Homo sapiens: one gene and its partners. The protein of the gene in region 1 interacts with the protein of each later gene in a pairwise test. Each region holds a gene or a part of one and is shown in the gene's direction. Other genes may lie near its edges.

Region 1 (9,395 bases):
GTGCGCCACCATACCCAGCTAATATTTTTGTAGAGAGAAGGGTCACCTTGTGTTGCCCAGACTGGTCTTGAACTCTTAGACTCAAGCAATCCTCTGGCCTCAGCCTCCCAAAGTGCTGGGATTACAGGCATGAGCCACTGTGTTGGGCCCATGTTATTTTCTTTTCTCTCTTTCTTTCTTTCCTTACTTTTTTTTTTTAGACAGATTCTCGCTCTGTCGCCAGGCTGGAGTGCAGTGGTGCAATCTCGGCTCACTGCAACCTCCGCCTCCCGGGTTCAAGCAATTCTGCCTCAGCCTCCCTAGTAGCTGGGATTACAGGCGTGCCACCACGCCTGGCTAATTTTGGTATTTTTAGTAGAGACAGGGTTTTGCCATGTTGGCCAGGCTGGTTTTAAAATCCTGACCTCAGGTGATCCACCCTTCTCGGCCTCCCAAAGTGCTGGGATTACAGGCATGAGCCACTGTGCCCGGCCAGCCCACATTATTTTCTTTGCCTTGAACACTCTTCCCTAGTTCTTCACAAAACTGGCTCCTTCTTATCCTTTAGATCTCAGCTAAAATATTGCATTGGCTGTTCCATAACTCTACATAAGAGGGAAAAGGGGCAGCAATCTGATTAAAACTGTGAAGAGGGAATTCTTAGGGGATCTGTCTCAAAGCTGCATTTGCATAGCAAACACACTGTCTTTACTTAGATTAAGTATAGACCAATAAAAATGTCAATGTTTTCTAAAATGCTTTTATTCATACTTTATATAAGATTAAGAAAACATCATCTGTCCATAAAAATATAATTTGGAGTACCCTGAGGGAAGTGGCAAGTGTTTCAAAGAGGATGGAGAGGCTGACAGGGACTAGAGAGTTTTTCTTATTTTGGCGATAAGGGTCTATTTGCATCTTTTAAGTAGGGGCATGCTGTGGCCTAACTTAAGTGATTAGATGAAGTGAGACTAAAGACTAAAAGGTCAGTAAAATCATTATTATTATTATGACATTTGTTAAGCATTTAATATGTGACAAATACGTTGTCCCTCAGTATCTGGGAAGGATTGGTTCCAGGACCCTCATGGATACCAAAATACAAAGATGCTCAAGTCTGACATAAAATGGTATAGTATTTGCATATAACCTATGCACATACTCTTATATACATGTTTTGTTTTTTTTTATTTTATTTTACTTTACCTTACCTTACCTTACCTTACCTCACCTCACCTCACCTTACCTTACCTTACCTTACTTTACTTTACTTTACTTTATTTTTTGAGACAGAGTCTCGCTCTGTCGCCCAGGCTGGAGTGCAGTGGCGCGATCTCAGCACACTGCAAACTCCACCTCCTGGGTTTTAAGCAACTCTCTCAGCCTCAGCCTCCCGAGTAGCTGGTATTCTAGGCACCCACCACCACACCTGGCTAATTTTTGTATTTTTAGTAGAGACGGGGTTTCGTCATGTTGGCCAGGTCTTGAACTCCTGACCTCAGGTGATCCACCTGCCTCGGCCTCCCAAAGTGCTTGGATTACAGGCGTGAGCCACCAAGCCCGACCTTTATATACTTTAAATCATCTCTAGATTACTTATAATACCCAATACAATGTGAATGCTATGTAAATAATTATACTGTATATTGTTTTATTGTATTCTTAGTATTGTTTTGGGTTTTTCTTTGTTGCTCTTTCCCAAATATTTTCTTTTATTTGTTTTTAAAAATAGAGATGGAGTCTCACTCTGTTGCTCAGGCTAGTCTTGAACTCCTGGGCTCAAGTGATCCTCCCGCTTTGGCCTCCCAGAGTGCTGGGATTACAGGGTAAACCACCATGCCAGGCCTATTATCCCCATTTTAAAGATGAGAAAACAGCCTGGGCGGGGTGACTCACGCCTGTAATCTCAGCACTTTGGGAGGCCAAGGCGGGTGGATCACTTAAGGCCAGGAATTCGATATCAGCCTGGCCAATGTGGCAAAACCCTGTCTCTACTAAAAATACAAAACAAAAACAACAACAACAACAATTAGCCAGGCGCGGTGGCGCATGCCTGTAATCCCAGCCCCTCAGGAGGCTGAGGCAGAAGAACTGCTTGAACCCGGGAGGCAGAGATTGCAGTGAGCCGAGATCGAGCCACTGCACTCCTGCGTGGGTGACAGAGCAAGACTCCGTCTCTAAATAAATAAATAAGAGGAAACAAAGGCACAGAGAGTTAAGGGACTTACTCAAAAATTATAAACTAGGTCGGGCACAGTGGCTCACGCCTATAATCCTAGCAGTTTGGGAGGCCGAAGCGGGTGGATTGCCTGAGTTCAGGAGTTCGAGACCAGCCTGGGCAACATGGTGAAACCCCGTCTCTATTAAGATACAAAAAATTAGCTGGGTGTGGTGGCGTATGCCTGTAGTCCCAGCTACTTGGGAAGCTGAGGCAGGAGAATTGCTTGAACCCGGGAGGTGGAGGTTGCAGTGGGCCAAGATCACGCCACTGCACTCCAGCCTGGGTGACAGAGCGAGACTCCGTCTCCCCCAACCCCCCCAAAAAATTATAAAACTAGTAAGTGACAGAGCTAAGATTCAATCCCAGAGTCCAGCTTTAAAACTCAGGTTCTTCATCATGAAATGTATTTATTCGTTCATTCTTCATATTTCATGAGTATGAAAATGCTATAATGCTCCCCCTTTCTATAAGATTACTGCAATACCACAGGCTTCAAATTGCAAAGGTCTGAACTAATACAATGGCAAACATGATGGAGAAAGGTAAGGAGATATTTGAAAGAGACTCAGGGAAGTAAAACTGATAATGTGGGCAAACAGCTGTGGAGCATAAGGGGGAGGGGAATCTAAGATGACTCTCAGACTTCTGATTTTACTAACTGGGTAGTTGATGGGCCAATCATACAAATGGGAAATTCAGGAAAGGAACTCTGGTGGAAAAGATAGAAATTATTGGTCATTTTATGTTTGATGTGCTTGTGGGGCAAAAAGAATAGCCAGGAGGCAATCAGATATACCAGTCTGGAGCTCAAGAAAGAGATTAGGGCTAGAGATATAAATTTTGTTCTCATACAGCTGTTAAAGGCAATTTCACTTAGGAAGAGTATCTGTAATAAATAAAGAGGGCTTAGAGCAGAATTCTCGGAAACATCATCATTTAGGGAGTAAGCATATTAAAAGTATATTAAAAGCATCCAGCAGAGAAGACTGAGGAAGATGGTCATAGGGCTGATACCAGGAGAGAATGGTGTCATGAAATCTCAGGATGGAGTTTCAACAATGACAAAATTGTCTTTAATCCCACTAGAAAGTAAGCTCTAGGAAGCAATGGGACATATCTGCTTTGTTCACCAATGTATTCCCAATGCCTAGAGGCTTGGCACATACTAGATGGCCAAAAATATTTCATGAATAAGAAAACAAATCGGCTGGGTGCGGTGGCTCACGCCCATAATCCCAGCACTTTGGGAGGCCATGGTGGGAGGATCACCTGAGGCCAGGAGTTCGAGACCAGCCTGGCCAACATGGCGAAACTCCATCTCTGCTAAAAATACAAAAATTAGGCTGGGCGCGGTGGCTCACGCCTGTAATCCCAGCACTTTGGGAGGCCGAGGAGGGCGGATCACGAGGTCAGGAGATCGAGACCATCCTGGCTAACACGGTGAAACCCCATCTCTACTAAAAATACAAAAAATTAGCCGGGCATGGTGGCATGTGCCTGTAGTCCAGCTACTCGGGAGGCTGAGGCAGGAGAATCACTTGAAACAGGGAGGCAGAGGTTGCAGTGAGCTGAGATTGTGCCACTGCACTCCAGCCTGGGTGACAGAGCGAGACTCCGTCTCAAAAAAAAAAAAAAAACAAAAATTAGCCAGGCGTGGTGGCGCATGCCTGTAATCCCAGCTACACGGGAGGCTGAGGCAGGAGAATCACTTGAACCCAGGAGGCGGAGGTTACAGTGAGCCAAGATCGCGCCACTGCACTCCAGCCTTGGCAACAAGAGCGAAACTCCGTCTCAAAAAAAAGAAAAGAAAAGAAAAGAAAAGAAAAGAAAAGAAATCAACAGTTACTAAATGCCACACAAAGTTCTGGGAAGCCAAAGACTGAGAGGTATCCGTTTTATTTAGCAACTTTGGGTGTCGCTGATCTTGTCCAGAGCAATTTCTGTGGAATAATGGGGCAAAAGCAAAATGGGAATGGATTACAAGAATGAAAAGAACGGGCCGGGCGCCGTGGCTCACGCCTGTAATCCTAGCACTTTGGGAGGCCGAGACGGGTGGATCATGAGGTCACGAGATCGAGACCATCCTGGCTAACACGGTGAAACCCCGTCTCTACTTAAAAAAAAAAAAAAAATTAGCCGGGTGTGGTGGCAGGCGCCTGTAGTCCCAGCTACTCAGGAAGCTGAGGCAGGTGAATGGTGTGAACCCGGGAGGCGGAGCTTGCAGTGAGCTGAGATCGCACCACTGCATTCCAGCGTGGGCGACGGAGTGAGACTCCGTCTCAAAAAAAAAAAATGAAAAGAATGTTCTTGTCTATTATTTTTCTACAATCATTAATTAATATATATATATATTAGGCCGGGCCCGGTGGCTCACACCTGTAATCTCAGCACTTTGGGAGGCCGAGGCGGGCAGATCACTTGAGGCCAGGAATTCTAGACCAGCCTGGCCAACGTGGCAAAACCCCGTCTCTACTAAAAATGCAAATATTAGCCGAGCATGGTGGCGGGTGCCTGTAATCCTAGCGACTCGGGAGGCTGAGGCAGGAGAATCGCTTGAACCCGGGAGGTGGAGGTTGCAGTGAGCTGAGATCACGCCATTGCACTCCAGCCTGAACGACACAGCAAGGCTCTGTCTCAAAAATAAATAAATAAAATTCTTAAAAGTTGATGGGAGAAAAAAAGTTGTTTAAAAAAATTTTTTTAAGTTGATGGGAGGTGAGGAAGCGTAGTTACTGATGGCCCCTTCTTGGATAAAAAAAATCTTTTGACTCAGGAAATGAAGAACAAAGCTGCAATTACAAGGGATCAAAGGCGATTTTTCCTTAAATGGAAGGAAACTTGTTATGTTCACCATCGGATCTCCGGGGCCCGGCACAATCTGGCCACTTAATAGGCATTCAATAAACCCCCGAGCTGGCTTGTGGTCGGCTTGCAGGACGCCGTCGCACAAGGACGGGCGCTGTAGTCTTTCCTTCTGGATTCTGCAGTGACGAATGAAGGCGCGGGCTCAGCCCCTGAGAGCGCAGCACCGTCGCCCTAAGCTAACCCACCTTGGGCCACGTGGAAACCAGGGGCCAGGAGGACAGACACCCGCGCGCCAGAGAAATACGGGGTGGGTGGAGAAAGGAATGCCCCACCCGCTGACAGCCGTTTCATCTCAGGCCTCCCAGTTTTCTGCAGGCCCCTCCCTACACGGCTCCTGCTTCTCTCACGCCTCGTACGGAACGGAAGTGACGTGTACGTCGCGAGCGATTGACGGAAACAGAAATTGCTTTGCGGCCCGCACGGAAATTGCTTTCCTTCGGCTTCCGTTCTTGGTCCATGTGAGAGAAGCTGGCTGCTGAAATGACTGCGAACCGGCTTGCAGAGAGGTGAAGGGCAACGAGGGGAGGGGGGATTCTGGGTCTCGTTGGGGGCCGGGTTCCCCAGCTTTTGGGAAATGGGAGCCCCCCCTTTAACAGATGGCAGTGGTTCCCCTGAAGAGCTGGCCATTCGTTCCTATTTTCCGCGATCCAGCCTTTAAAGCCCTTTTAATTTAATTTCATTCGCTTACTCCGCTCCTCAGCTGTATAGCCGCATCCCTGTTGGTCCTGATGCTGTTTCTGCCTCCCCAGCTCATTTACTGTGTTTCACATTTTTCGTCACGTGGCCCCTTTTTCTGCCTCTGTCGCGGCCCGATTTAATCCTCTGCGCAGGCAGTGCAGGCGTTATAAACTCCCCGAATCTTGGAAAGCTTTGCTGATTGGAGTCATCCACCACGTTTTGGCTCCTGTGATGTTTTGTGCCCCCCCCACCCCGCCCCCGGAACTAAATGTAGTCCGTTTAGTAATGTTGGCTTTGCAAATACTAATAATATATGCTGTTAGGTAATGGTACATTTTATAATTTGTTTGTGGGTACCAATCTCCTTAGTTAAGCACCTACTTTACTAAGCAAGCCCCAGGGAAAGTGGCTTACCCAGCTGCTTTCGACCTGTTTCTCCATTCCTGGGAACAAGGATCAAGATAACACTTTTGATTAGGCTGCCTATCAATGAGTCAAATATATGGAGGATGCTTAGAAATATTAATCGTGAAACTGCCTTGCCTCCAGGGCTAGCTAGCAACAGCGTCTTTGGCCATATTATTCTAGGGTCTGACATTTTTACAGCTTCCCATAGGTCATAGGAAATGTTGTGCCAATCCCTGAAAAGTGATAGCTCTTTTACATGCAGTTTTGAAGTCAGGCATCACTCTTGGAGGTGATGCCTGACTTCAGTCTAAATTTCACATCTTGACAAGTTTCCAAAGGCATTCACGCTGCTTTATATATCTTCTGAGGGATAGGGCTATTCTGTGCTGAAATTACAATGTTTTCGAGATTGTTTTAATAGATTAGACATTGCTTCAAATAATAATATTTCTTTTTTTAATTTCGACTTTTATTATAATTAAGGGATACATATGCAGGTTTGTTACATGGGTATATTGCATTCACATTTCTCTGTTGCCTCTTTTAACAGCCTTCTGGCTTTGAGCCAACAGGAAGAACTAGCGGATTTGCCAAAAGACTACCTCTTGAGTGAGAGTGAAGATGAGGTGGGTGACAATTGCTAAACTGCCTTCAAAATTAGGGTAGAGAGCACATTCCTGGAATGGAAGGGTGTGACAATGTTCTATGTATTTGTTCAGGTCTCTCAAATAAATTGCAAATGGTTAGTGTTTCATATATAAGATACTGTATCATATTAAGTGCTATGAGGATTTGGAAACTAAGTTACAATCACTACCCTCAAGTTGCATAAGTATAATTTATAAGACCAACCAAAACAGGCCCGGGTGATGGCTCATGCCTGTAATCCCAGCACTTTGGGAGGCCAAGGCGGGCAGATCACAAGGTCAGGAGATTGAGACCATCCTGGCTAACACAGTGAAACCCCGTCTCTACTAAAAATACAAAAAATTAGCCAGGCGTGGTGGCAGGCGCCTGTAGTCCCAGCTACTTGGGAGGCTGAGGCAGGAGAATGGCATGAACCTGGGAGGCGGAGCTTGCAGTGAGCCAAGATAACACCACTGCACTCCATCCTGGGCAACAGAGCGAGACGCCGTCTCAAAAATAAATAAATAAATAACAAGAGATTTTACATGAGACTCAATTTCCATGTTGTCTTTTCCCTCCCCCTCATCCTGATTGTTTTTCCTTTTCTGTGTCTTAGGGGGACAATGATGGAGAGAGAAAGCATCAAAAGCTTCTGGAAGCAATCAGTTCCCTTGATGGAAAGAATAGGTAACGTTCCCGTCAGTTAGGGCAGGTTATATAGTCAATTCCGTGAGATTTCTCTGCAGCTAATATTTATTGAGTGCTTCATGTAAAGACCTTAATACCAGTGCCTAGCATATAGTAAGCATTATATAATTAACTGTTAGCTGTTATTAGTCTTAGTGCTATTATTGTAAGCATTTGCAGTCTTATTCCACACTGAAAATCTTTTAAAGCATTGAGTAGGCATTATTTAACCCCATTAGAGAAATAAATTTACTTACCCCCAAGGTCACCTGGCTCATAAGTTACAGGTTCAGGTGTGTTTGAATCTAAGTCCAATATGTTTTCCACTATGCTTACCTTGTAATAAAGAGAAGAGATGAGGGTTAGACAACCAAGTCCAAGTTAGGAACAGATCTCCTTGCTGCATCATGACAAAACATGACCCTAGAAGAAATACAAGAAACCAAAGCCCTGTTTGAAGAGAGAAGTGTTTGTCTCTCCCAACCCCAAGCCCCCATAAAATTTATTCATTCCTATTATATCGTTTTGCCTAATTTCAGGCGGAAATTGGCTGAGAGGTCTGAGGCTAGTCTGAAGGTGTCAGAGTTCAATGTCAGTTCTGAAGGTAAGTTGAACAAAGGAAGATACCCATGCATGAAACCTGTGGAGTTCCAAGGGCATTGTGTTCACCTCACCCCCCCTAGGAACTGTTTTTGATGTGGTTAATGACTCATACCATAAATACCTGGGAGAGTGGGTGAAGAAGTGTAGTCAGATGCCCTTCAGTTTCTTCCATCTCTCAAAGAAAGCCTAGAAGGCTGTGGTCAAGGTATCCTACAGAGTTTGATGAGATACTTATAGGATAGATGGACATGAATAAAGACAGCTGCCTCTTAGTAACTTAGTCATAATTCATATTTGTACAATTTCATTTTTATTTCAGTTCTCTTAACAATGCTTTGAGTTAGGAGACAGGCAAATATTCTCTTCAGCCAGAGCTCAGAGAGGTCACATTACTTATTCAAGGGCCTTTGCCTAGTACAGTATTTCTCAACCTTTGCTTTTTTATTGCTCCCCTGAGAGGAGCCTTTCAAGCCTTTTTTTTTTTTTTTTTTTTTGAGACAGAGTCTCACTCTATCGCCCAGGCTGGAGTGCAGTGGTGCGATCTTGGCTCACTGCAAACTCCGCCTCCCAGGTTCACGCCATTCTCCTTCCTCAGCCTCCCGAGTATCTGGGACTACAGGTGCCCGCCACCGCGCCTGGCTAGTTTTTTGTATTTTTAGTAGAGACGGGGTTTCACCGTGTTAGCCAGGATGGTCTGGATCTCCTGACCTCGTGATCCACCCGCCGCAGCCTCTCAAAGTGCTGGGATTACAGGCGTGAGCCACCGTGCGCGGCCTCAAGACATTTTTTTCCTCATTGTATCCCTCCCCCTGTGCCCCTTCCCCAGGAAATCAAGTCCTAAGGAATAAGAGTTTGTTGGACAGAGTTGAGCCTTGGAGGGACACAAAACATTGTAATATCTAAGATTTTTTTCATACTCTCCCAGAAAGAACCAATTTTCACCCTGGGGTGGCGGGGTGGTAAAATTGCCCCTGTTCAGAATACATGCTCTAATAAGCGGCAGCCATGGGATTTTATCCTAATACTGAGTCTAGATGCCAAATCTTTTTCACCCTGTTCACAACTTAGGCAGCTAGAATGGGTCTTGCATTTGTAGTAATCACTGGTGTAGCCTCCTAGGGCAAATAACAATGTATTCCAAGCGTACTTATTCAGTGGATATTTATTGTGTTTCTACTAGGTAGCAGTATCAGGAACTGTTGTAGATACCAAGGTTAAAGTAGCGAATAAGATGTGAGCTCATGGGGTTTACATTCTAATGAAGGGAGACAATAAGAGAGGATGATGCAGTAAAGCAACTAAGTGGCTACTTTAGATCGGTTGGTCA
Region 2 (4,550 bases), on another chromosome or scaffold:
CTTTCTTTGGATAGGTATTTGTTCTACCCTAGGTTCTTTGTTGTTCTCCCTGGATCAGGGTGCCAGGCCCAGTAGGGACACAGCCTCTCTTGGCAGTCTCTTACATATGTCCCTGGATCCAACCACTGAAGACTGGTCCCTGCAGTAGTTTTTGTACAGTCCTTTATAGAACTACATATAATAGCTTAATGTTTGCATGAGGTTTACATGGCTCTTGGTGATTAAATCAAATGCCCTACTCAGTGATGTGGCGATGCTATCCCAGTCTTCGTAGGTTGTCTCTGGTCTCCTGCCAAGCGGAACGTGCCAGGTGAACACTTGGGCACAGTGAGCCCCGATGCTTTCAGGAGCCTGAGTATTCAAACTAAACACAGCAAATCCTTCAAAGCCCTTCCAGCTTCATCTTTAGAATACTGAATGCGGGAAATTCCACAGTGACTCCTAGGAAACAATTCTTATTTCTAACTGGGCTCCCATTAAAACAAGATGATTTTCCTGATTCTAACCTGACGTCTTTGTGACTGATTCTTTAGTGCTCTTCTTATTCTTTCCCTAGTGAGTCAGTAACATAATTATTCAACAAAGGAATGTGTGTGTGTGCACGCACACACGTTTGCCTGTGTGTGTGTTCTTGGGTTCATAAACTTCAGTTTGAGCTACTCTAAGTCTTTGCTTCCTTGTTCATTCATTCAACAAATACTGAGTAAATCTCTCTGGGTGCCCGTGGCTGGACATCACACACACATGCTGGATGTACATGTGCATATGCCTGCGTTGCCTCTTTTTAATGTGTTTGCACTTGAGATGCATATTCAGAGAATGCATCCTCAAGAAAACTTGTGGATTGATACTGGATGTTCCGTGTTTCTGTGCTCCTCTACTCCTTTTCTGATAATTCTTATGTGAAGTTATCAAACAGGAAAGTACGTTGTCACATTCCTTCACTCTGGCTCCAGTTCTGACCCAGTGGGTGATATATGCCATCCGAAACCTTACCGAAGACAACAGCCAAAACCAAGATTTGATTGCAAAGATGGAGGAACAGGGGCTGGCAGATGCATCCCTACTTAAAAAAGTGGGTTTTGAAGTTGAAAAGAAAGGCGAAAAGCTGATCCTGAAATCTACTAGAGACACCCCTAAGCCAGTAAGTACCCTCGAGGGAACTGTCCTTCCCTTTGGTTTGTAGAAAGCTGTTTCCACTTCCCCATTGCTTCAAGCACGAGGCTCTTTGTAAGAATATGGATGGGAGAATTGTGCCCTCTATAGTGGTTTACCGAGGAAAGCCCTAAAGATAGCTGCAAACGGTTTTTTTGTTCCGGCTTTATGCTGCCATTTTCTTAAAAGAGGGACAATTTCAAACTCATTCTGGGTGAGAAATACAAAAGGCATATCAAAAGTTATACATGGTCTAAAAGTAAGTTACTCATAGGAATTAGATTTTCTTTAAAAGATAGTTAATGTTCACTATAGTTTAAAAAACAGAACTCCTTGAATAATATTGCATGAATTGTTTTAGGTTTCTCTAAGTTATTTGTCACCACTGACCAAAGTTCTGGGTTTTTTCCCCTTTTGTCTGATGAATCTTGTGAACAGATTTGCTACATCTGCAATTTTGTTTCTTTCTTCTTCTTTAGTGAATGAACTACATCCAAATACCTGAATTTTTGGAATCTGTTTCATGGATTTTTCATCTTCTACCGTATGTGAAATTGCAAGTGTTTGAAGATTTATAAGTACAAATTTGGGAACATACAAATCTTTTAGGTAGTAGAGTTTAACGTGTATAAGCTAAAAGTGAAAGTAACTGAGTGTTCTCTTGTTTCTTTGCATTAATGTAACTGTGTGGTTTGCCTTTGTCCCCCTGGATAGAACGTGCATTTAAAGAATATATTGTACTTACTGTGACAGCAGATAATAAACCAGTCTCTTGGAGGGCACAACCCTTATTTGACAAAACTTGGATGTTGGCTTGACTGTGTTTGTCCCTTCAGATGGCAAGTCAGCATCATTCTTTATATTCCTCTTCTCATTGGGTTTTCTGAACTCTGGCAGGCGGTTGAAGTAGTTTCTCACTGTGATTAATTCTAGCAATCTCTTTTCACCCCTCTGCCTTTCCAAAACATTGACAAGACTCATTTCCAGTTAATTAATTCGAGAACCCTCCCTCTTCATTTTGGGTACTGGGCTGTCTTGTCACTGAGCCCTATCCCTTTGGAATGTGGCAGGGAGTGAGGTTGGTGAGAGAACATGTGGGCACTTAACTCTTCATGTTCCAGTTCATCCCAGAAGTAGACATCCCAGGACCCATTCTGTGTCAAGGTGAATGCCTGTGTCCTCCCCAGCTTCATGCCTCTGTCATGGGGGAAGGAATAGCTTATGTTCTGCTCTGGTGCAGTGCCGTAGATTAAAGGTACATTTCTATCTTCTTTGATTTAAAAAGCACCAGTCTCATAAAGGTGCCACTCAGTTTTAGCCATGTCTTCACTGAAATTGCAAAAGTACTTTTAGGGAGCAGGAGTTTATTTGACATCTAGTTATCTGTCTGTCTGTTCATCTATCTATCTGTCTGCTGTATGAGAGGTAGGACTGGATTAAATGACCACTGAACTCACTGAATCCAGATCATTCATATCATCAACAAAAGCTCTAGGGGGAGGTCACGTTGTGAATGCTTAAAACATATTATTTTCTTCAACAACCATATCGCTAAACTAATATATCCAGAGATTTTGCACAATTCGTGTTGAACCTTCCAAAACAAAAATAAAGACCTGTCCAAAAGTTTTGACAAAAATACTGATTGCTCCCAAATAAAGTGCTTCTAAGCTTTGTGTAGACATAGTTTAACTGATTTGTAAAAATAGCTTAAGCATGTTGAGAATGAAGTAAAAGTTTTCCCATGTGCTGTCTAATGTACTCTGTGTAACTCTGAAGACACATCAGCTTCTAGGATTGCAGCAATCTATGAATAACATTTTTTCTCTCATTTATGACTTTCCATCAGTAAAGAAGCCATTGCAGAATTTAAAATTACACAAAGGAGTCATTCTCTCCTGGGACATAAAGAGTTAAAGCTCTGTCCTCTAAATAGAAGCCTGGCCAAAGGGAGAAAACAGTGGGAGTCCCTTTTCCCTTTTAACAAGTTTGCAATAGACACTTCTTTTTTTCCTGTCTCAATGGATGTGTGCACACCAGTGGAATCGCACAAACTTGTCGGTATGAGCTATATAATAACAAACACAAATAAATAAAAGGGAGCCTTGTGAGAATACAGAATGGGGTAATGGTTATGTGTTTTCTAAGTAGGAAGTGTGGGGCTTGCATAGTGAAAACATGCTGATGACTGCATTGTGGCTGCCTTTGATTCCCTCGGATGGATTAATTCTTGAGCACAACAGCTTCCCTGTCCTCTACCGTGGAGGACTCGGAGCTCCTGAGAACCTTGTTTTACATGCTATAGAGGATTAATCATCACCTCAATCAGTCATTTAGAAGGAAGAAAAAAGCAGGCCAGCCTTACAAAATTTGTAAAGAGACAGAATGGTCACAGCAAGTTTTGTGACCATATTATTGCTTTCAAGAGCGAGCTGACAAAGCTTTTAGCTGGCTTCACTTTAAAAGATAGAGGGGAAGGCTTCTCAGCTTGATACTGAGTCCAAGTATTTGCAGAGTGATTATTTTTTAATACCTTAACAATGGATGTGAAGATTTCAAAAATACTTATTTTTGCAATCTTAAAACAGTCGGCTCTCTGTATCCACAGATTGAACCAACTGGGGATTGAAAATACTCAGGAAAAATAAAATAGTAGTACAACAACAAAAAATAATACAAATTTTAAAATACAAGGTAACAACTATTTCCATAGCATTTACATTTTATTAGGTGTTACAAGTAATCTGGAGATGATTTAAAGTATGTGGGAGAATGCGGGTAGTTTATATGCAAATACTGTGAAGGCTCATATCAGAGACTTGAGCATCCATAGATTTTGGCATCCAAGCGGGGGTTCCTGAAACCAATACTCCACAGATTTCAAGGGCCAACTTACTAAACTGTTAGGATTTGTTAATATTTGTTCATTGTCCTCCTGCCCCAGCCGTGTAAGACATGCCTGCTTCCTCTTCTGCCATGATCCTAAGTTTCCTGAGGCCTCCCGAGCCATCCTTCCTGTATAGCCTGCAGAGCCATGAGCCAATTAAACCTCTTTTCTTTATAAATTATCTAGTCTCAAGGAGTTCTGTGTAGCAATATGAGAACGCACTAATACAACGTCCTGATTTTGTGGTTCTGTTCTTGTTTTTGTTTTTAGGAGCTAACATTGAGATGCATTTTTTTGTTGTTGTTCAGTAACTTCACAATCTAAGCATAGGGCTTTGGAAACTGCTAAAACATGTCATTTGCAAAATAGGATATAGAAAAAATGATTGAGATGATTTGGGCTACCAATTAATACGTCTTTAAATCAAATTTTTTTGTGTGCATCTTACATCCATTCTCTCTTGAAGTCATTCATGTGCTGCCCTGATAACACATGGCATTTAAGTGTT
Region 3 (8,576 bases), on another chromosome or scaffold:
CCTGGGTGCTGCTCTGTCCATAAAAACAGCGATGTAGACCAGTCTTGTAAAATGCATGCCAAATCTGAAATCTAGGTACCCCTCTTAGTACAGACAGTGTGCACCGGCTTCATCCTGTTACCGTTTTCTCCAGTTTCTTTGTTGTTTAACGTAGCATCAAATGAAAAGGTCACATGCATCTGTTTCAAAATCTGTTTCAAACAAATATATTCCTTCATTACTTTATTCTCCCTACACTTGAAACAAAGATTGATAACAGTAGCTAAAATATATTGAGCACTTTACCAGGCATTGCATTTTAAAATACTTTCACAGGTGTTAACTTATTTAAACATCACAAAAATCTTATGAGGCAGATATTGTTTGTAATCCTGTTTTACAGATGAGGAAACTAAGACACAAAGGTGTCAAGTAACTTTTGCTCAGCTACTAAGTTGAGCAAGGCAGCATTTGAATCAAGGCCTGACTCCAGGCCAGGAGTTTTAACCTCTCTCTTCCGTACTATGAAACAATTACACTGGTTAATTTTCATATATTGAATACCAAGCTCTTCTCTTATCTCATTTTAATTCTTATATTAATCCTATGAAGTAGACATTATTATCCATATTTTCCAAATAATTAAATGAGTTAAATGACATACTCAACATCATTTAATAAATGGCAGAGGTAGGATTCAAATGAGATCTCTCCAAAGACTCTAAAACTAGGACCCATCCATTTTGGCTATTGTGCTGTGTGAGAGACAAAAAAGCGAGTGTATGTCTGTATCTTTCAGGTTTGCTCTCCAATTTCAGTGTGATCCATTGTTATTTTCTTAAAGCCACAAGTATAGCCGCACTTTTTGCCAGTTGATTGGTAACTGTGAATAATATATGCACACTCAAAGTAGACCCATGGCCCCTTAAAATAAATTATGGCATTGTTTTTGTCTCCTTAATGAAAGTAGCTGTTATACTTTGTGGATCTCAAATGCTGTGTAAATAGTTGCTACCTTAATCAGGGATCTCTTTTACTAGAAATCTTTGTGGCTTCTGCATCCCCTAGAGCATGTGAGAACATATATTCTCCTGGGAACTGTGCTGGAACTAGGAACTTCTAGAGTTGACTTTTTTGTTTTGAGAGTTAACTCAAATTAATTCAACTCTCATTTTTCTTCTTTGCAATGTATAAACCCTTGACGAGGTCCATGTAAAAGTTATTCCTCTTGACTGGGCACAGTAGCTTACACCTGTAATCTCAGCACTTTGGGAAGCCAAGGCAGACCAATCACTTGAGGCCAGGAGTTAGAGACCAGGCTGGAGGCTCGTGCCTGTAATCCCAGGCTACTCGGGAGGCTGAGACAGGACAATCACTTGAGCCCAGGAGGCAGAGGTTGCAGTGAGACGAGATTGCACCACTGCAGTCCAGCCTGGGCGACAGAGCAAGGCCCTGTCTTAAAAAAGAAAAAAATTATTCCTCTTGACAGAGACTTTTCATCAATATCCTGGACTTGTGTTCCTTGATTCCTCTCTGAGTGAGGCCTGGCCCCAGAATCTCAGAGTGAAGTTTCCATCGTAACATAGATACCTCTGCCTAGGTGCTAATCCTCATGAGCTCACATATTCATAAAACATCCTTGATTCTTTGTTGGAGGAACCTTCTTAAACAAAAACCCATAGATACTGTAAAAGGGAGGCATACGAATGGTTTTCAGATGGTCATTGAACCCACTAAAATTGAGGCAAATTTTCATGCATTTGTGCATAAATGTAGTTTTCTAGGGAAAAAATGGGGATATTGCTAACTAAAAATACAGGAAGAATCACTGGTTTACATATGCTGTTTAAAAAAGGGGAGAGGAGCAGAGGTCACTCTGCTGAAATGTATCGAAGACAAAGCCAAGCTATCCTACCAGTGGCAGCCAAAAATAAAATGTTCTTGGCTATCAGGACATTTTTGTGGCATTTCACCAGGAGTCCAGGTGGCAGGTATAGCAAACATCAACTGACACTGAGTCAGGCCTGCAACTGAGTCAGGCCTCCAGGCGTGGCAGGCAGTCCTAGCTTGGCTTGTCATTCATTGAGAATCTCCCCTGTGCATAATCAGTGCTTTATAGATGTGTTAGTTCATTGAATCATCCCAACATCCCTGTAAGGTGGACATTTTTCTCTTTCTTTGACAAACAAGGAGATGCTTGGAGGGATTAAGTCACTTGGTCAAGGCCATATGGAGCCAGATAGTGGAAGGGCTGGATTTGAAATGCAGGTGGGCCTGATTCCAAAGTCTGTTTCTTCTCTTCCTACCATAGCTCATAGTTTCTCTGCCTGTGTGGGACACCAAAAAAAGTATTGTTTAGTGTAGCTTTTTATTGTGGCAGGACTAAGAGTCCCTCAAGAAATATGTTCACACACTGATAGGAAAAGCCTAAAATATTATCAAAGGAACAACAACAAGTTGTATGTCTCCCAGAGTGGCAGAAGAAAAGCAAGCCCTGCTTTAACTTAAGGTGAGTTGAAACTCCACACTTTTGCTTCCCCCATCGCCAGGTGTCTTGCCGAGTACCAAATGCACAGCAGCCCCCACCTAACACAGCCTGAAAACTATCTTGCAGGGGTAACTGTAAATCAAAACTTTATTCACTGCAAAGATGAATTTACTTTAAGGCTGTTCTGTCCTCTGAGGCTTCCCTGATACAGCAGCTGTGTCATGATCCGGAACACTGACTTGCTTCTAAATCCTGGGAGGGGCACTACTTACCAGATGACTTACGTGCTCTTTAGTTTTCAGTTCATACTGGTCTTGAAATCCTCTTTAGCAGCTGTTCTTGCTTCCAAATTATTATTTAAGCGCTAACAGTTTTCCGCTTACCTATATTCTTGCTATGATCGCATAGAACAACCCACTGTTTCATTTTGGGGGTTCAGAACAGCTAATGCCATCAATGTGGCAAACACACAAAGCAGAAATTTCGGTCAGAGTTGAGGGTATTCATAATAAAAATAATGAATCTCAAGCACTATAGAGGACGATTGTACTTGATCAACAGACCTGCCTGGTAACCGTTCCAGTGTGCTTCATTATGCTTTAACTCAGTGCTCTTCCAACATTTTTTTTTCTCTTTTATAATCCCTCAAGAATTTTTTAAAAATTCTGCAGCTCCATCACCTCCACACATTTAAGGTTACATCTAATGCTTTTCATCATAAATTTATAGAATCACAATTAATGTGATTTTCAGAATGTTGTAAACTTTGACAGTTAAAAATAAAACCGTGACATCATTCTTTGAATCCAATTAAAATCTAAATACCAACTTCAATTTAAAATGTATGTGAAGAAGCTCTTTTCACAAAGGGATGTTTTTATATCTTGCAGTTAAGCACCACAGTAAAATTTGGGATTTCTTGGGGTTTTGTTTGTTTGTTTAGTTTATATTTGTCTTTAACCTTATATGGCAGAAGGCATTTTGTGAAAATGGAGATGGAAAAAGGGGCCCCGAATAATTCTACAACCACAGGCACATTCTCCGGTAGATAGTTTTAGGAAAACATACAGGCAAAAGCTGCGGATCTGGAAATTAATGCCATTAACTTTTCCCTTGCCTGCAGGCTCTTTAGAAAGCCACTGTGGAGGCCAGGGGTATGCAAATGCCAGTTTGAAGATTGCACATTTATCTAGCACAGGTGCTGTGTGTTATGGGTCAGTGTGGCACAGCTACTGGCAGTCAGGCCCATTGCCTTTTGTGTATGGGACTCAAATTAGAGGTGAGTAGGGCCAGAAGGAGCTGCACAGAGGCTGGTCCCATTTTCTGCTCTCAAGTAGTGGTGACTGGGAATAGCTGTCTTTTATCTTTCTTCTATTTAATGATTTTCAGTACAAGATGGGCTAATTCCAGTGCTTTCTTTTCTTTTTAGTTTTATTTATTTATTTATTTATTTATTTACAAACAGGGTCTTACTCTGTTGCTTAGGCTGGAGAGCAGTGGCATGATCATAACTCACTGCAACTCCAACTCCTGGGCTCAAGCAGTTCTCCCAACTCATCCTTCCAAGTAACTGGGACTACAGGCATGTCCCACCACACCAGCTGGTTAAAAAATTTTTTTTTTCATAGGGATGGAGTCTTGCTGTGTTGCCCAGGCTGGTCTTGAACTTGTGGCTTCCAGCAGTCCTTCTGCCTCAGCCTCCTAAGTGTTGGGATTACAGGTGTGAGCCATTGCACCTGACCCCAGCAAGTTTTTAGATCAGTTGTTCTTAGCCAGGAGCAATTGTCTTCTCCAGGGGACATTTGACAATGTCTGGAGACATTTTTTATTATCTCAATTGGGGAAAAGGGCTGGCATCTAGTGGGTAGAGGTTGGGACTGCTGCTGAACATGCCACAAAGCACAAGACAGCTTCCACAACAAAGAATTATCTGACCCAAAATGTCAATGATGCCGAAATTATGAAACTCTGCTTTAGAAGTTCTAGTTTTCTCATTGAAATCTTCCCTGTTTAAATAATTTAAGTCAATTTTTTTGTCTTTACAAGATAGTAAAAAGCACAACATCTAAGAGCATCTAGGAGGCATGATAAAGTAATGAGAAGAAGAGATCAGATATCCCACTTACTGACTGTGTGAGCCTCAGTTTCTTCGTCTGTAAAATGGGGAAAATGATGCCTGGCTTGCAAAGTTATTGTGAGGATTGCAGACAATCAGTGTACAGGCCCCAGTCATGGTACATGCTAAATACCATAATTCTTTTTACGATCAAACAGCAATTATGTCACTCTCTAGTTTATCTGGGATGTGTGTGATCTTGCCTTCCTTTGAACCAAAGGTATGCTTTGTTTTTTTATAACAAAAAATTGTCTTGATTTGAATTTACTCATTGACGTTCGTATTTCTCCTAGACTTTAGGCTCCTTCAGACATCATTGTGTCTTCCAGCAGAGAACCTTACTCATGGTGAATACTCAACAAGCTTTTGTTGACCTGAAATATTAGCCAGAATAAATCCTACTTAATTTTCCTTTTCTTATAAGACTGAGTTCTTTTTCCCCTTGGAGCATTTTAATGTGTTTAGTAAAAACATTCACTTCCTGAAATGTAGCGCCCATTTTGTGTCTGTGCCCAAGATGAATGTGTGCTTGGTAATACCTAGAATCCTGGAAGTCTTGCTTTCCTGAATCAGGATCATGCAGAGCATTTCTGCTGGGGGAAGGGGAGTCTTGAGGAGGACAATATTTCATTGAAGAAATGACGGGCAGCATGGTTTGAATCTGGTGTTTTCCTTTTTGAACCCCTTAGGCTAATCCTTTTCGTCTGGCTTTGGTCTGACACTGTCCGATGAGCAGTCCAGTACATTGGCTTCTTTCTGGTAGAAGGGACATTTTGATTCCTTACCAGGTTTATATTTTATTCTAATGTCCAAAGTGAAGCGAAGTAATGAGTATATTTTCATTGAATAAATGAAATATTCATTCATTCTAATGAATAAATGATGACACAATGTTATACATCCTTTGCCTACAATCACTTAATCACTTCCCCCACTTTTTTTTTTTCCTTTTGAGACGGAGTCTCTGTCGCCCAGGCTGGAGTGCAGTGGCATGATCTTGGCTCACTGCAAGCTCTGCCTCCAGGGTTCATGCTATTCTCCTGCCTCAGCCTCCCGAGTAGCTGGGACTACAGGCGCCCACCACCACACCCGGCTAATTTTTTTTTTTTTTTTTGTATTTTTAGTAGAGACGGGGTTTCACCATGTTAGCCAGGATGGTCTCGATCTCCTGACCTCGTGATCCGCCTGCCTCAGCCTCCCAAAGTGCTGGGATTACAGGTGTGAGCCACCACGCCCGGCCTCACTTTCCCTTTTAGAATACATGCTAGATTGTTTACTCTGACCTGAAATAGTACCCATTTCTTTGTCAAGATGAAGACTTCACTAATTGTAATGGAAAGAAGTCCTCTCTTTCTGAATGCAGTTTTAGATCCTACAGCACACCATGTGGAAGTCTTTAAATGTTTATCAAGTTGTTGAATGTTAAAATGAGCCTGAGTGCAGGGGATGACCCTGAGACTCTGTCTCAGAACCAACTTGTGGAATGTCAGTTGGTGGGTTTGGATGATGGAAAAGGAAGCAGGCCCTGTGGGGAATGTGTGTTTTGACACAATGTTCCCTTTTAAAACGACCGTGCGTCTACTGTTTCACCATCTGCCCGTTAGTATCAATATAGCAAGAGGTTGTGGGAATTGGTGTGTATTTTGTGGAAGAAAGAATAACAACAACAAAAAAAAAAACCTTCTCTGCCGGCTTCCTTGAAAAGTGTGACTTTGTTCACTTTCAGAAGGTATAGGTTACAGCTGATTTGGAAAGAGGATCCTCCCTCTTTGAATGCCTTCAGGCTCAGAGGAAAATGAGAATCTATTTGGGTAAGTTAAAAATGCCAAACTAAATCTCCCAATGCAAATATGGACCACCCAGGGACACTGTAAAAGGCCAGATTTGGGGTTTTGAATATTTACACATTTTCTTGCCTCCTATTTTAAGCTTTTTAATATTTGTCAAATGCTGCTGAAAAGTAATTGGCATATCAAGCAAGGGTGAAATCCCATATCTTATGCCAGAGAATTTAAAGCCAGGGGAACTGTGCTCATTTTCCTTGAGTATCCCTTGTTTTTAAAAATGAAGAAATGTGAGTTCAAAAAATTCTAAGACAATAAATTAGAGACCTTAAAGTAGATAGAAAAGTTGGTTACAAAACTATTGTCGAGGAGGAGGAAGATATACTATCTTTGAGTGCTCCCTTTCCCTGGTATAGTCTGCCCTGACTGAGCCATTTTTCTCAGTAAATTGGGCAAAAGTTCATTTTTGACGATGGGTCAGGGTACTGGAAACATCACCCTATAACACTGTCAACACCACCGCTACCTTCCCAAATGCTGGAAAGGCAGATCTGGGCAGCACATGGAAAAAGTGTTTTCTAAACTTCCTGGAGGAAAATACAGAAAGTTGCTTTAACCAGGGCACATGCTCTGGAGACTGTGTGGTTAATAATGACATTTAGTACTTTCTTATTCTTTACACCCTCCTCACGGGGCATTCCATAGCACTTTAAGATGGGGATGGTAAAGGAGGGGTGCTTGAAGATGTCAACGCTGTCAGGGAAGGTGAAAAGTAACCAGAATTCCGACTCATTGGAGTGAATTTGATCAGGCTAGGCTGTGTCATGATGCAACAAAAAATAACTGCCAACCTCAGTGGACCAACACAACAAAAAAATTTTCTTGGCCACGTTACATGTCCAGTGTGGGTCAACAAGGGTCTGTGTTCACCATGTTCACTCAGAGGCCCATGCTGCATGAGGCTTCCTCTTGATATATACTTTTACAATCCCTGTGGTAAATTGCATACTGCATATTAAACCTCCTGGAAGTGACATATGACACCTCTACTCATGTTTCATGAGCCAAAAGCAGTTGTGTGGCCATTCCTGACTACAGTGGCATCCTTAAGTGTAGTCCTATGGGAAGGGAACTGGAATTTTCGTAATAAACTCAAATGACTATGGAAGGGAAGGACTTCCATGAAGTCTGCCTATTCCTGCTAATAACTACAGTCTCTATGGGGCACCCCTAGGGACACTGACTGATATGTAACCACATATGTAGTGGTTTCAGCCACCAACTCTACAAGTTAATTGGGAGAGTTCCCTGAGCCATTTGTGGGACTTGCAATAGAGGTGTTGCTCATTTGCTCAGCCACTGCATGCTCAAACCCTGTATGGGATGGGGAGCATGCAGACAGGCAGGTGCAGGAGCCAGAATGAGCACTTTTGGGCCCCAGCCCCATGGTAGCATCGAGGGATGCATTGTAATTAATGCTCTTTTAGCAGTTATTGTCCGTAGATGGCTAAGTATTAAACCAGCTTGTGCAGAGATAAGGTGACAGCCTTTTAACCCTGTCCTCTTGGTACCTGCATACTTGTCCGGCATCCAGGAAGAATCAGGTCACACATGGACTTGAAGGATGGTGAACATAGTGGTTTTATTGAGTGGTGGAGGTTGCTCTCAGTGGGATGAATGGGGAGCTGGAAAGGGGATGGAGTGGGAAGATGATCTGCCCCTGGAGTTCAGCCATCCTGTGGCCAGTCAGCTCTCTGACCTTCCCCAGCCGAACTCCTCTCGATGTTCAGATGTCCCTTCTCTTCTATCCTTCTCTGGTGCTCCTCTCTGCCACTCTGCCACTCTTCTGCTCATGGAGCCTGAGGTTTGGGGTTTTTGTGGGTACAGGATGGGGGCATGGCAGACCAGAGTGGTTTTAGAAAAGGCGACATTTGGGCATGAAAACAGAAATGCCTGTTCCCATTTAGGGCCGTTGGTTTCCAGGCTTGAGGGTGGAGCGTTTGCTGGGAACCACCCTCTTCTACCCAGTATTTCCTTGCCTCCTGTCCATATCACTAACACCTGAATGAATGCCCATTAAAATATAAAATGCATTTGCATGATTTTAGCATCATAAGGAATAACAGGTTCCCAGAAAACTGAGCTTACAAATATAAATTTTACTGATAATGAATAAAAGAAATACATATGGGGTGCAAATTAGCTTCCT

Evidence for each region.
Region 2: the proteins of UTP14A (region 1) and ATXN10 interact in binary tests that used the Homo sapiens proteins (3 or more experiments, as listed by UniProt).
Region 3: the proteins of UTP14A (region 1) and DYNC1I1 interact in binary tests that used the Homo sapiens proteins (3 or more experiments, as listed by UniProt).

The regions. Positions count from the first base shown.
Region 1 is NC_000023.11:129,900,666-129,910,060, forward strand, and holds the start of UTP14A (U3 small nucleolar RNA-associated protein 14 homolog A), read left to right. Parts: upstream 1-5,498; 5' UTR 5,499-5,545; coding exon 5,546-5,571; intron 5,572-6,598; exon of another isoform or gene 6,599-6,701; coding exon 6,702-6,777; exon of another isoform or gene 6,778-7,394; coding exon 7,395-7,465; exon of another isoform or gene 7,466-7,888; intron 7,889-8,004; coding exon 8,005-8,069; intron 8,070-9,395. UniProt on the Homo sapiens protein: May be required for ribosome biogenesis.
Region 2 is NC_000022.11:45,842,035-45,846,584, forward strand, and holds the end of ATXN10 (ataxin-10), read left to right. Parts: intron 1-956; coding exon 957-1,144; intron 1,145-1,634; coding exon 1,635-1,637; 3' UTR 1,638-3,273; downstream 3,274-4,550. UniProt on the Homo sapiens protein: May play a role in the regulation of cytokinesis. May play a role in signaling by stimulating protein glycosylation. Induces neuritogenesis by activating the Ras-MAP kinase pathway and is necessary for the survival of cerebellar neurons.
Region 3 is NC_000007.14:95,774,755-95,783,330, forward strand, and holds part of DYNC1I1 (cytoplasmic dynein 1 intermediate chain 1), read left to right. Parts: intron 1-8,576. UniProt on the Homo sapiens protein: Acts as one of several non-catalytic accessory components of the cytoplasmic dynein 1 complex that are thought to be involved in linking dynein to cargos and to adapter proteins that regulate dynein function.